Regions from separate parts of the Homo sapiens genome. Here region 2 is linked to region 1. The links come from fine-mapping of genetic effects on gene expression. A gene starts in region 1. The other region holds a variant in brackets. All regions are shown on one strand. Distances are between the middles of the regions.

What was found. PIP is the estimated chance that this variant, and not a neighbour inherited with it, causes the effect.
Region 2: its variant is the best candidate, but not a certain one, in a credible set for the expression of PANX1 in tibial artery (GTEx, PIP 0.59).

Annotation. Positions count from the first base shown.
Region 1 is chr11:94,126,553-94,132,036 of GRCh38, forward strand. It overlaps PANX1 (pannexin 1), which reads left to right and starts at 2,289. Exons shown (of 5, transcript NM_015368.4): 1 at 2,289-2,941. The coding sequence starts at 2,761. RefSeq lists enhancers at 2,222-2,281, 2,602-2,861 and a silencer at 2,512-2,581.
Region 2 is chr11:94,176,428-94,181,687 of GRCh38, forward strand. It overlaps PANX1 (pannexin 1), which reads left to right. Exons shown (of 5, transcript NM_015368.4): 3 at 1,942-2,165; 4 at 3,175-3,830; 5 at 4,363-5,260. The coding sequence ends at 4,442. Among named protein-coding and RNA genes, the nearest start is that of PANX1, 50 kb to the left of the region's middle. The variant A/G (reference allele first, on the strand shown) is at 3,045.

The DNA.
Region 1 (5,484 bases):
ATAATATGAATTAAAACATCAACTCTGTGTGAGGCATTTGTGCTAAGTGTTGAGGATAAAAGTGGTACACATGGGCATGGGCCTACCCTCAAGAAGCCGATCACATAAAGTGGTGGCAAACACTAAATAAATGAATAAATATTTGTTGAGTTGCAATGGTGACTATTTTTAAGAAGGAAAAATAGAGAACAATGACAGATGAAATGTACCTAGATTCACAAGGTGCCAGGCACTGGGCACTACCCACGTGTTAACTCATTTGGTCCTTATCACAGTCCTAAGAGGTACAACCTTTTTACAGATGAGAAAACTGAGACACAGGAGAGTCAAAGAACTCCCCAAGACTAATAGCTAGTAACTAGTGTGGCTAGTATTATGGGAGAATTTCACAAAGGGACCTAATCTAGTCTGTCTACTTAGGGAAGGCTTTCCCAGGGAAGTGACATCAAGCTGAGGCCAGAAGGGTGAATAAAGGTGGGCCAGGCAAAGAGGCCACTGTGGGGAGTGTTTTGGGTGGGAAGGCCTGGAGGAGGCCAAGGGCTTAGCTAACTTGAAGAACTGAAAGGAAAGCAGTGAAGCTGGTGGTGAGGTAGGCAGAGGCCATGCTAAGAAATTTGTATTTTATGCTAAAAACAATGTACACTTTAAGTAGAAAAGATGATCCGACTGGAGTTTTGAAAAGCTCATCCTGGCAGCTGTAGAGGAGAATGGAGGGGGACCCTGTCTCACATATTTCCTATATGTGGTTAGGAGACAGGATGGTGAGTTGAATTGGGTATTGGCAGTGCAGGTGGAGGGGTGTCAGATTTGCTATATTTAGGAGAGAGAAGCAAGAGAATTTGAAAATTGGTTATGGCAGCTGTGAGAAATGGAGTGTTGAAGATGGTGCTCCAGGATTCCGACTTGGGTGCACAGGTGGCTGGTGGTACATTTAGTAAGATGGGGAAGATGGAGTTCAGGTTTAAGGGGAAGATGAAGACTGAAGTCCTGGCCGTTATGAGTTTGAAGCCCTATGAGCCATCTACGCGGAGAGAGCTGTATACGCTCTTGGATGTGTGTTTAGCGGCCAGGCTGGGGTGGAGAGGTACATGTGGGAGTTGAGGCTTGTATCTGTGGACCCACAGAGAAGGGAGCCAAGCCCTGCCCCAAGGAGCCCTCATGTTTGCAGGTCCTGCCTGCTTCAAATGTTACTGGTGATAACCTACATGTCACATTTGACAGGGCTTCCAAACTAAGCCATCTAAGAAAGGTCTTATGATTCATGGCTTAGATCCTGTCCCTGAGTAAAAAATCTTACTGTGAGTCCTTCAAATCCTTTTGTCAGTTCCTCAAACTGCTGATGTACTGATTAGTATGTAAAATACTGACATTGAAAAGAACACTGACTTGTTTCTGAATCATATAAACTTTGATTTTCTTGTGCACAAAACATTTTAGCCTGTATGTTGTCATCTGCAGCCAGTGACTGTAACCTGTGTACCATACCCTCCGATGAAAAAAATCCCACCTCTGATATAAGGGGTCCTCCTCCCTTTTCCTAAACTTTCTTCTAAAACCCTTCCAACGTGTAACAAATTTTGAAACATGCCCAACTTTGCTGGTAAGTCTTCTTGGGTGGATCCTCACATTTAGCTTCCAATAAATCAAATTATTTCTACTTCAACAGCCTTAATTTCCGTGGACACTGGTCAGAGTATTTCCTCCTGTCTTTCCATCATCCACTTCCTATGAGCTGTTCAGAAGCAGCTCTCTGCAGCCCCAACACCCACCTACCTGCAGGCCCCCCTCTCTCTGCTGGCTCCCGGAACAAGGCTCTGATTGGGATGGCAGAGGAAAGAGAAACGGGACCAGCAGCGCTACTCAGGCCTCGAAACTCCACACTCACTACCGTTTCCGCGCCACCCTCTCACGCGGAGCTCCTGGAAGGGTCCAGCGCTCCCTCTGCAAGGCACCGTCGGTCTACACCGCTCGATTGGCCTTTTATGGCACTGACTGTTCTTTGAAGCTTTTGCAGCTCCTTCTAACCCGATTTCACCGTGTTGGAAATGTTGGGGGTGGGGCGTAAAGGGGGCCATCCCATCCACAGAAAGAGTCGCTTGCAGAAATGATTTTAAAACTCCCGGGTGCCAGGACGTGAGGAGAATCCGGCAGGGAGGGACGGGAGAATTTCCAAAGGTGCCGCTCAGTGGGAAAATCCCTTTGTCAGAGAGTGGCCCGAGGGGCGCGGAATGCAGCCGCGCCCACCCCGCCCCGCGTCACCGCGTCTTCCGGAAGCTCCACGCCCCTGGGTACTTGGTTTCCCCGCATGGTTCCGGAAGAGCGCGGCGCAGCTGGCTGTGAGCGCAGGGCTATCCCGGCGGCCGCTTCGGCAGCCAGGGCGGCGCGGAGGGGCAGGGCCAGAGGGAAGCGCTTTGTTCCGCGCGTGGTTCCCGCGCCTGGGGGTGCGCGGGAGAGGCGCGAATCCGAGTGCCGCGCGCGGCCCGGGGACTTGCACGGGCGTGCGGGGTGGAACCGCAGGAAGCGGAGCTCTCGGGTTCCCGCCCCGCCCCGCCCCGCCGGCGGCGGAGGCAGCGAGCGCGAGAGCCCAGCGGAGTCGCTGGGAGCCTGAGGCACCGAGACACAAAGGCAGGCGGGATGCGGGAGCAGGCAAAGGGAAAGCGAAAGCCGCGCGCCCGGCCGGTGACTGGGTGAAGGCGCCGCGCAGCTTTCCCGACGCCGGCTGTACCCGGACCTCCTGGTCGAGCCTGGCGCGCCGCAGCCATGGCCATCGCTCAACTGGCCACGGAGTACGTGTTCTCGGATTTCTTGCTGAAGGAGCCCACGGAGCCCAAGTTCAAGGGGCTGCGACTGGAGCTGGCTGTGGACAAGATGGTCACGTGCATTGCGGTGGGGCTGCCCCTGCTGCTCATCTCGCTGGCCTTCGCGCAGGAGATCTCGATTGGTAAGCCTCGCCCAGGACGGAGGGGAGTGGCCGCCCCGGTCTGGCCCGGTGAGCTGCGATTTTACGGCTCACAGGCCCGAGTCTGGGTACGCCCAGCTGTGATGGTCGTGAGCGTCAGGAAGGGCAGTGGCCCCAGTTTTATGGTCCAAAGCGTTCTTTGCCCAGGTGTTTCATTGGTACCCTGGTCTACTCTGCTCGCATCCCTACTCCTCAGTTCTTTTGTTCCTCATGCCCCTCTGATCGGACTGTGGCTTATAGTTTATGTTCCACCCTTAGAACTGGCACCTTGCCACCAGATTTGCCAAGAATAGCTGTGTCCCCGTTTTTCACCCCTGTCTCCTACATATTTGTCCAGCCGCCTAAAATTTTACACCAGAGAAGTTCCTGAGTGGCTACATGGAGGATGTGAAGACCGGTGCTCCATGAGAAGTGTGTTCTTTCAGTGTCTTACATATAATTGGTATTTGCTGAGATCTTAGCTCTCTAGGGTTGTGAATGATAGGAAATATCTGCACTTGGCAGGCATTAGAGGGATCCTCAACTTGGACGGTCTTACAAATGTGAGATGAACAAGTCCCCTTCCTGTAAATTATCATTTGAGCTTCATAACAGTTGTGTGAGATTGGAAAGTCTGGTGGTTTGGGCAGGATCACGTGGCTACGTGCCTTACCTTCCTCATCAGCTGTTCTGACTCTCCACACAGGAGAGAGTGTTTATGAACCAACAGGAAGGTAGCGCAGGAGGGTTAAATACAGTTCTGTGGCAGGGGAAGAGAGAGGACCCAGTGCGGCTGGACTTTGGGAAAACTTTTGTCAGAGGGTGGGTGGGATTTGGACAAGAAGGAGTAAGACCTTTGTTAAGGTTTTGAGATGGCAGAGAATGTTATATGTTCCTGGAAAGAGAGACACAGTGACTCTCCTAGCCAAGGCAGGAGGATAAGTCAGAGTTCCTGGAGTCTGAGAGTGAATATGGGCCTGGGTCAGCCTGGAACAGAAGAGTGTAGGCTGATGGTTTCAGAACTGTGAAGTTATTGTTTGAGCAGAGGACAGACTGGTTGAATGATGGTGGCATTTAGGGTCTGGGAAGAAGGTGAGAGGATGGGGCCTGGAGGGCTGGGTGCCAGAGAGCAAGGCATCGGCTGAGGTCTTGTGCACAGAGGGTGTGAAGAGTGGAAGAAAATGGGTGGGTGATTGCTGTGCGATCAAGGAGTAAATAAGCAGCACTTGAGTACCTAGTATTTAATAGGCCATGAACGGCAGTACTGGTCAAACGTGCTGCGGAGGTTGTATGTCTGGGTGAGTGGAGTGTGGTGTTGGTGGTGATGGGAATTGTGAAGTTGAGGGAATAGTTGATTAGGAAAGAATGACTATGAGTGTGATTTTGCAATCTGCAGCACTAAGTTGTTCAGCTTGGCAGGAAGTTGCCAAATTCATTGTGGAAAATAGTTTTTAGTTTTCCTGCTCTTTGCGCAGGCATAGTCATCGGGATGTTCTTTAAGTTTCCATTTGACAGTGGATTGAGGCTTCCAGCTGAAAGCAAAACCACCAAGTAGCATGAGTCCTGGAGATAATCTCTCCCTTTGGTCAATTCCTCCTTCAGTACTGGCTGTGTGCTGAACTCGGTGCTGACCTCCAAGGACCCGGGAGTAAAAGAGGCATGATCCCTGTCTTGGAGGTGCAAGTCTTGGGTACCTGGTTGGGACAGAAAGGCAGGAGGAAGGAGTTAGTCACCCTCTGTGACCAATCTCCACCTCTAGCACATGTACTAGAGGGACTCCTAAGGCACCTGTACCTGTAATGCCTTAGATACGTCTAAATTGGTGGGCTGTCTGAGAGGTATTTTTGGGGTATTGGGAGTGGTTTTAACTAGCAAGAGTTTGAGCTCATGCTGTGTGCATAGCACTGTTGTGTGCTGAGGGAGATGGGAAAGGATTTTGAGACCTTGTTCTTGCCCTGCCCTCTCCCTGCCCTGTGGCAGTTTACTATGCAGTTGGGCACTAGAAGGTATCTGTTAGCAGGTAAGTCATTCAGCTGTGTGTAATTCAGCACCCAGCCAGGTGTTGAGCTATGAGCTCCAGGCTGGTGAAGGTTGGCAGGCACTTGGGTGAGGAGCTGTCAAGCAGACTCCCATGTTTTCTGAAGTGTTTTCAGGAGTTCCAGGGGAGGACAGACATGTGGGATGAAGCTAACAGGACCAGGGAAGACCTATTAGATTAGGTATACATTTAGATAAAACCAGAAGAAGGGCTTTTGAGAAGAGGGGAGAGGTACATAGATTAATACATGGAGTTGGTACAGTGGGAGGGATCATGTCATGCAGCATTTAATTTTGTGTAGTTAGTAGTATGCACTCAGCCAAAAACAAACCAAAAAAAAGAACAGCAATAAAGGGAGAATGAAGTAATTGAAATGGAGCTGGCACTTTGCCCACCATATTGGCCAGTGAACTCAGGCCCCGGGAAGACACTGAGATAAGGCCTGCAGACTTAAAACATGGCTTCATCCTTCCTCTGTTGATAATTACTGCTTCCCTCTCTGGTGCTT
Region 2 (5,260 bases), 50 kb after region 1:
GGGAAAAACTACTACTGTACTTTACAAATAAAAGTCTGAAGTTTAGTTTCTGATAATGTGCCGATGTTGGCTTCTTAGTCTTAACAAATATATCACAGAAATATGAGTCATTAGCAATGGGGGAAACTGAGTGAGGGGCTTATGGGAATGCTCTGTACATCTGAAATTACAGTGAGGGCCATGTTGTGGGGGCTGCCGTCCACTCCCAGAAATGTTTTGAGGGGAGGGTTTCATGTCAACTTACGGCCATCATGGCCTCGTCCATTACAACTCTGAGAAATGGTGGAGATAGACCCATCCAAAAGTAAGGAGAAGTTTTCCAGAGGAGTAAAGTAATTGAGAGTGTGTTAGATTGGAAAAAGATGTCTCTGGGGTCAGAGAGGTTGGCAACATAGTCTGACTCTCACTTACCAGCTTTGTGATCTGGGGCCAGAAACTGCTCCCGGCTTTCTCTTCCCATTTGCAGAATGGAGCCATCTATAGAGTCCCTGCCAGGGTTGCTGTGAGGACTGAACATAACGTGTCCACCTAGCTAATCTTTTTGTGGTTACCTGGAGTGTTTGAGTGCCTGTTCTATGCCAGGCCCTTTGCTAAGCATTTTCCATCAATTATCTCCTTTAATCTTCATGACACCTCTATTCCATGACCATTTCATACATAAGGAAACTGAGGGTCAGAGACTTTGAAAACTAACCAGATGGATGGGCTAAATGCTGGGGACAGCGGGAGCCATTGCAGGTACCTGAGCAGGGTGAACTTGGCGGTTCCAAGAGTTAAGCCTCAGTAATGGTGTACAGGAGAGAATAGAGGCAGGGAGAGCCACTTGGTAAGCACAGAGTGAGGGTTCTAATTAGGGAACAGAAAGGAAAAGAAGCAGTTTTGTCCAAGAAGGCAAAGAGCAAACAAAAAGCAATACTCTTATGTCTTATTGCTGATTAGAAGATCACGCAAAAGGATAGTCGAAAGTGACATCAAGGGCCTAGACCAGGGTCAGCAAACTTCTGCAGAGGGCCAGATCATAAAGTTTTTTTGTCATTGCAGATCACATGGTCACTGTCGCAGCTACTTAGTTCTGCAGAGTAGACATGATTGCCCAAGGCCGCAATGCTGAGCTTCAATTCAGATCTGCACTGACTGCAATTTACGGTCTTCCTAAGTCTTCTGCTGAGGCTAAGCCACCTCTGACCAACTGGTGGTCCTGGTTACTGGGGTGCTCCTCACCCTCTCTGACGTGTGAATCCCCTCTTGTTTGGTGTGTGTCTGCACCCTGATGTGGATGCTCTCCTCTTGATTCCCTTGCCCGTTGTGGATGGCCTCTCTGAGCCCAAGTTTATCCAACTATACGATGAGGGTGTTGGACTGCCTTCAAAGTCTGTTCCACATTCATTCTGCATTCTGTGAATTCAACTGCTTATTTCAGCTGTCTTATTGGGATGATTACTGAATCACTGAAGTCGAAGCTTTTCTAATTTGTTTTGGGGGAAGTTACATGTTTCTTTGGCATTTTCCCAGATTCCAGAGTAGGGCAAAAATGGAGCCGTATGCCTTAGTTGCTTCTTAAAACCATAAAAGTTAACAAAAACCCAGCAGAAGCCTTCGTGATAGCTGCAGGTTTCTTAACTGGGATTTTGTTCAGGGAACGGGAGTAATTTTATTTTTTTATTTTCCTTCTGTGATTAGAACGTACACACCATGTGTCACCATGCAGTTGCTGATTACTTCAAATTAATACCTATGGAAGAAAAAAAAATAGGTAGTTACCTGTGACAGGTATTACCTGGACAGGGGAATTTAGCCATAAGAAGTAGTTATTAGGTAATGAGCCCAATTTCCACAATACACATTTGTCTCAAGATGTGAGAAAATGAGAGCATCACTTGGCGCCATAGGTTACTGCATGGGGGGTTTGTTAAGCCCATGATTTGTTCTCTTGTTTTTCAGTTTTTCCCCTACATCCTGCTGCTCTTTGCGATCCTCCTGTACCTGCCCCCGCTGTTCTGGCGTTTCGCAGCTGCTCCTCATATTTGCTCAGACTTGAAGTTTATCATGGAAGAACTTGACAAAGTTTACAACCGTGCAATTAAGGCTGCAAAGAGTGCGCGTGACCTTGACATGAGAGATGGAGCCTGCTCAGTTCCAGGTGTTACCGAGAACTTAGGGCAAAGGTAACTTAGCCCCAGCAGGCAGCTCATCGGGTTTTGTAGGACAAATTCTCTGCCCTTCTACTGCCAGTCTGGGCCCAGAGTTCTCATTGCTAGGAGGCGGGGCAGGAGTGGAAGCAGGGGGACGTCATGCACCTAGTGACAGCCTGTAGTATCCCGGGATGTCCACTCTCCCCAAATCTCACCGCGACCCATCCTACCCATTTGTTTATCCTTCTGTCAAGACTCATTCCCTTGATGAGTGAAACATTACATCTCATTTTAAAAATGCAGTTCTTGTAGGGGTAACAGATTGAGGTGCTATATGAAGCTTGCTTGCTTTGATCTATTTAACTCCTTAATGGAGACGCACAGAGGATTTCAAGGCAGCTGAGCAAGGGATGAGAGAGAAATGGGGAATGAGTAGGTCGTGGCTTGCCTTTTCACAACCTTCTTTTGGTTCTTGTTATTGAATAATTGGAATAATAATAAGAGCCATCATTTTTTGAATATTTAATATATCTCACACACCGTATTGAGTTATTTAAGTACATTATCTCCTTTAACCCTCAGAGCAACATTACTAGTGCATTTGTTAACCTCCTCCTCCACTTTTATTCTGGATAAAAATACTCTTCTGTAGCTGTAAGTGAGAGTCTGGGAACTGAACCATGCCCTTTAGACCCCATAGTTTTTGCCCATACCCCCTGAGTTGTCCCACCCCTTGCCTGTAAGAGGCGTATGCTTACACATATTTAGGATTTACCAGATGCCAGGCATCACTCTAAAAATTTCCAAATATTAACTCATTTAATTAACTAGGCCTTCTGTTAAATATTAAGGGGAAAAGCATTTTATTATTCCTTTTCTTCCTCCTCTTTTAAACGGATTTTATTTTTGACT[A/G]CTGACGTTGTAGGTAAAGAAGTATGGGTGTTTGAAATTTTTAGTGTGACATTGTTGAATGTGTATCTGCCTTTAATATTTGATGGTCTTGATGAGTGCCTAAGTTATTTTTGTTTCCTTTATTTTTTAGTTTGTGGGAGGTATCTGAAAGCCACTTCAAGTACCCAATTGTGGAGCAGTACTTGAAGACAAAGAAAAATTCTAATAATTTAATCATCAAGTACATTAGCTGCCGCCTGCTGACACTCATCATTATACTGTTAGCGTGTATCTACCTGGGCTATTACTTCAGCCTCTCCTCACTCTCAGACGAGTTTGTGTGCAGCATCAAATCAGGGATCCTGAGAAACGACAGCACCGTGCCCGATCAGTTTCAGTGCAAACTCATTGCCGTGGGCATCTTCCAGTTGCTCAGTGTCATTAACCTTGTGGTTTATGTCCTGCTGGCTCCCGTGGTTGTCTACACGCTGTTTGTTCCATTCCGACAGAAGACAGATGTTCTCAAAGTGTACGAAATCCTCCCCACTTTTGATGTTCTGCATTTCAAATCTGAAGGGTACAACGATTTGAGCCTCTACAATCTCTTCTTGGAGGAAAATATAAGTGAGGTCAAGTCATACAAGTGTCTTAAGGTACTGGAGAATATTAAGAGCAGTGGTCAGGGGATCGACCCAATGCTACTCCTGACAAACCTTGGCATGATCAAGATGGATGTTGTTGATGGCAAAACTCCCATGTCTGCAGAGATGAGAGAGGAGCAGGGGAACCAGACGGCAGAGCTCCAAGGTAGGGTTTGCTTTTGGCAGAGGCTACGGGAGTCTACCGAGAGCCTTTGCAGCAGCCTTGTGGGAATATTGACAGTCTTTACCCTGCCCATCATTTAAACCATTTCCAAGCATTAAAAACCTTAATACCAAGGTGCGGGGTAGGGGGAGTGGGAACCCCTCAGTATAAGGAGAGAGAGGAAAAGAATTGGTGCTGCTCTACATTTCCAAAGAAGAATAACTTCTGTGCTTTTTCTGGTTTTTCCCTCTTCTCTGTCTGTCTCACACTCTCTCTTGCTCAGCAATCTTCCTTGTCTTTCTTGCTTATTTTTGTCTTATCTTACTGGCTTTCCTTTCTACCTCTGATCTCCTTCTCTGTTACTCTCTGACTTTCTCTTTCAAAGGGGACTAAAAGTTTATTGATTCTTTTAGTTAGGCCAAGAAGCAAAACATGGTATAGACTGTGAGAGGAATTTTTGGCAGAAGAAAAATTGATTAGTATTGGTAATTCCTGCTATGTTTCTGTCATAAATATTTGTTTTCAATTTTGACAGGTATGAACATAGACAGTGAAACTAAAGCAAATAATGGAGAGAAGAATGCCCGACAGAGACTTCTGGATTCTTCTTGCTGATGATTTTTTTCCTTGAGCTGTAAATCTGTGACTTCTGCGACATGGGATTTAATTTGGCTAAAGCACCCCTGTTGGTTTCACAGCTGGTTTGCAATAAATGGTTCTTGGTGGAGATACTGAGCATGTCTTATTGAGTCCCTAATGGAAATGGTGATCAACAAAAGGTTATGGAAGAATGGTTTATGAACTTCCCATAGGAAGCACCTGAGAGATAGTAAACTGCAGCAAGTAACTATGTGTAAGTCCTCATCAAATGAAAAGCAGAAAGACAAGAACAATTAGTCAAGAGCAGTAGCCCTGTCAGAGCCTCGGAGCAATACCTTTCTGTACCCGTGGTGAGACAAGACCCAGAGCTACTGGAAAACAAGCACTTTGGAAGATTTGTTTTGTTTTCATGGAATAATAATATGTCAGGGTATAATTTAACGTGAGTTTCTTATGTGCCCTTAAAGACTGTTAGACAAGAAAAGCATTCACTGGCTAATAATCCATAGGTCGACCTATGTCCTAAGTTAGGTGTAAGGTCCGATGCCTTGGCCCACACTCGAGCTCTCTTTACATTGTTAGTTGTCAACCTTGGCTGATGGAAATCCCGTAACCACTATTTGTTGCACTGTGCCTTGAAGGGCAGCAGGCCCAAGTGCTGCTCTGACTGAAAACTGAGTTAACAAGATGAAATCTAAAGGATATTCACAGTGACTTCAATTCAGGAAGAATGCTTCCAAAAGAGCCCAGTGGGGAAATCTGACATCACAGAAGACATTAATTCAGTCACTTTCAAAGAGTTTGTCTACAGGCGGTTTCTCTGTTATCAAAGG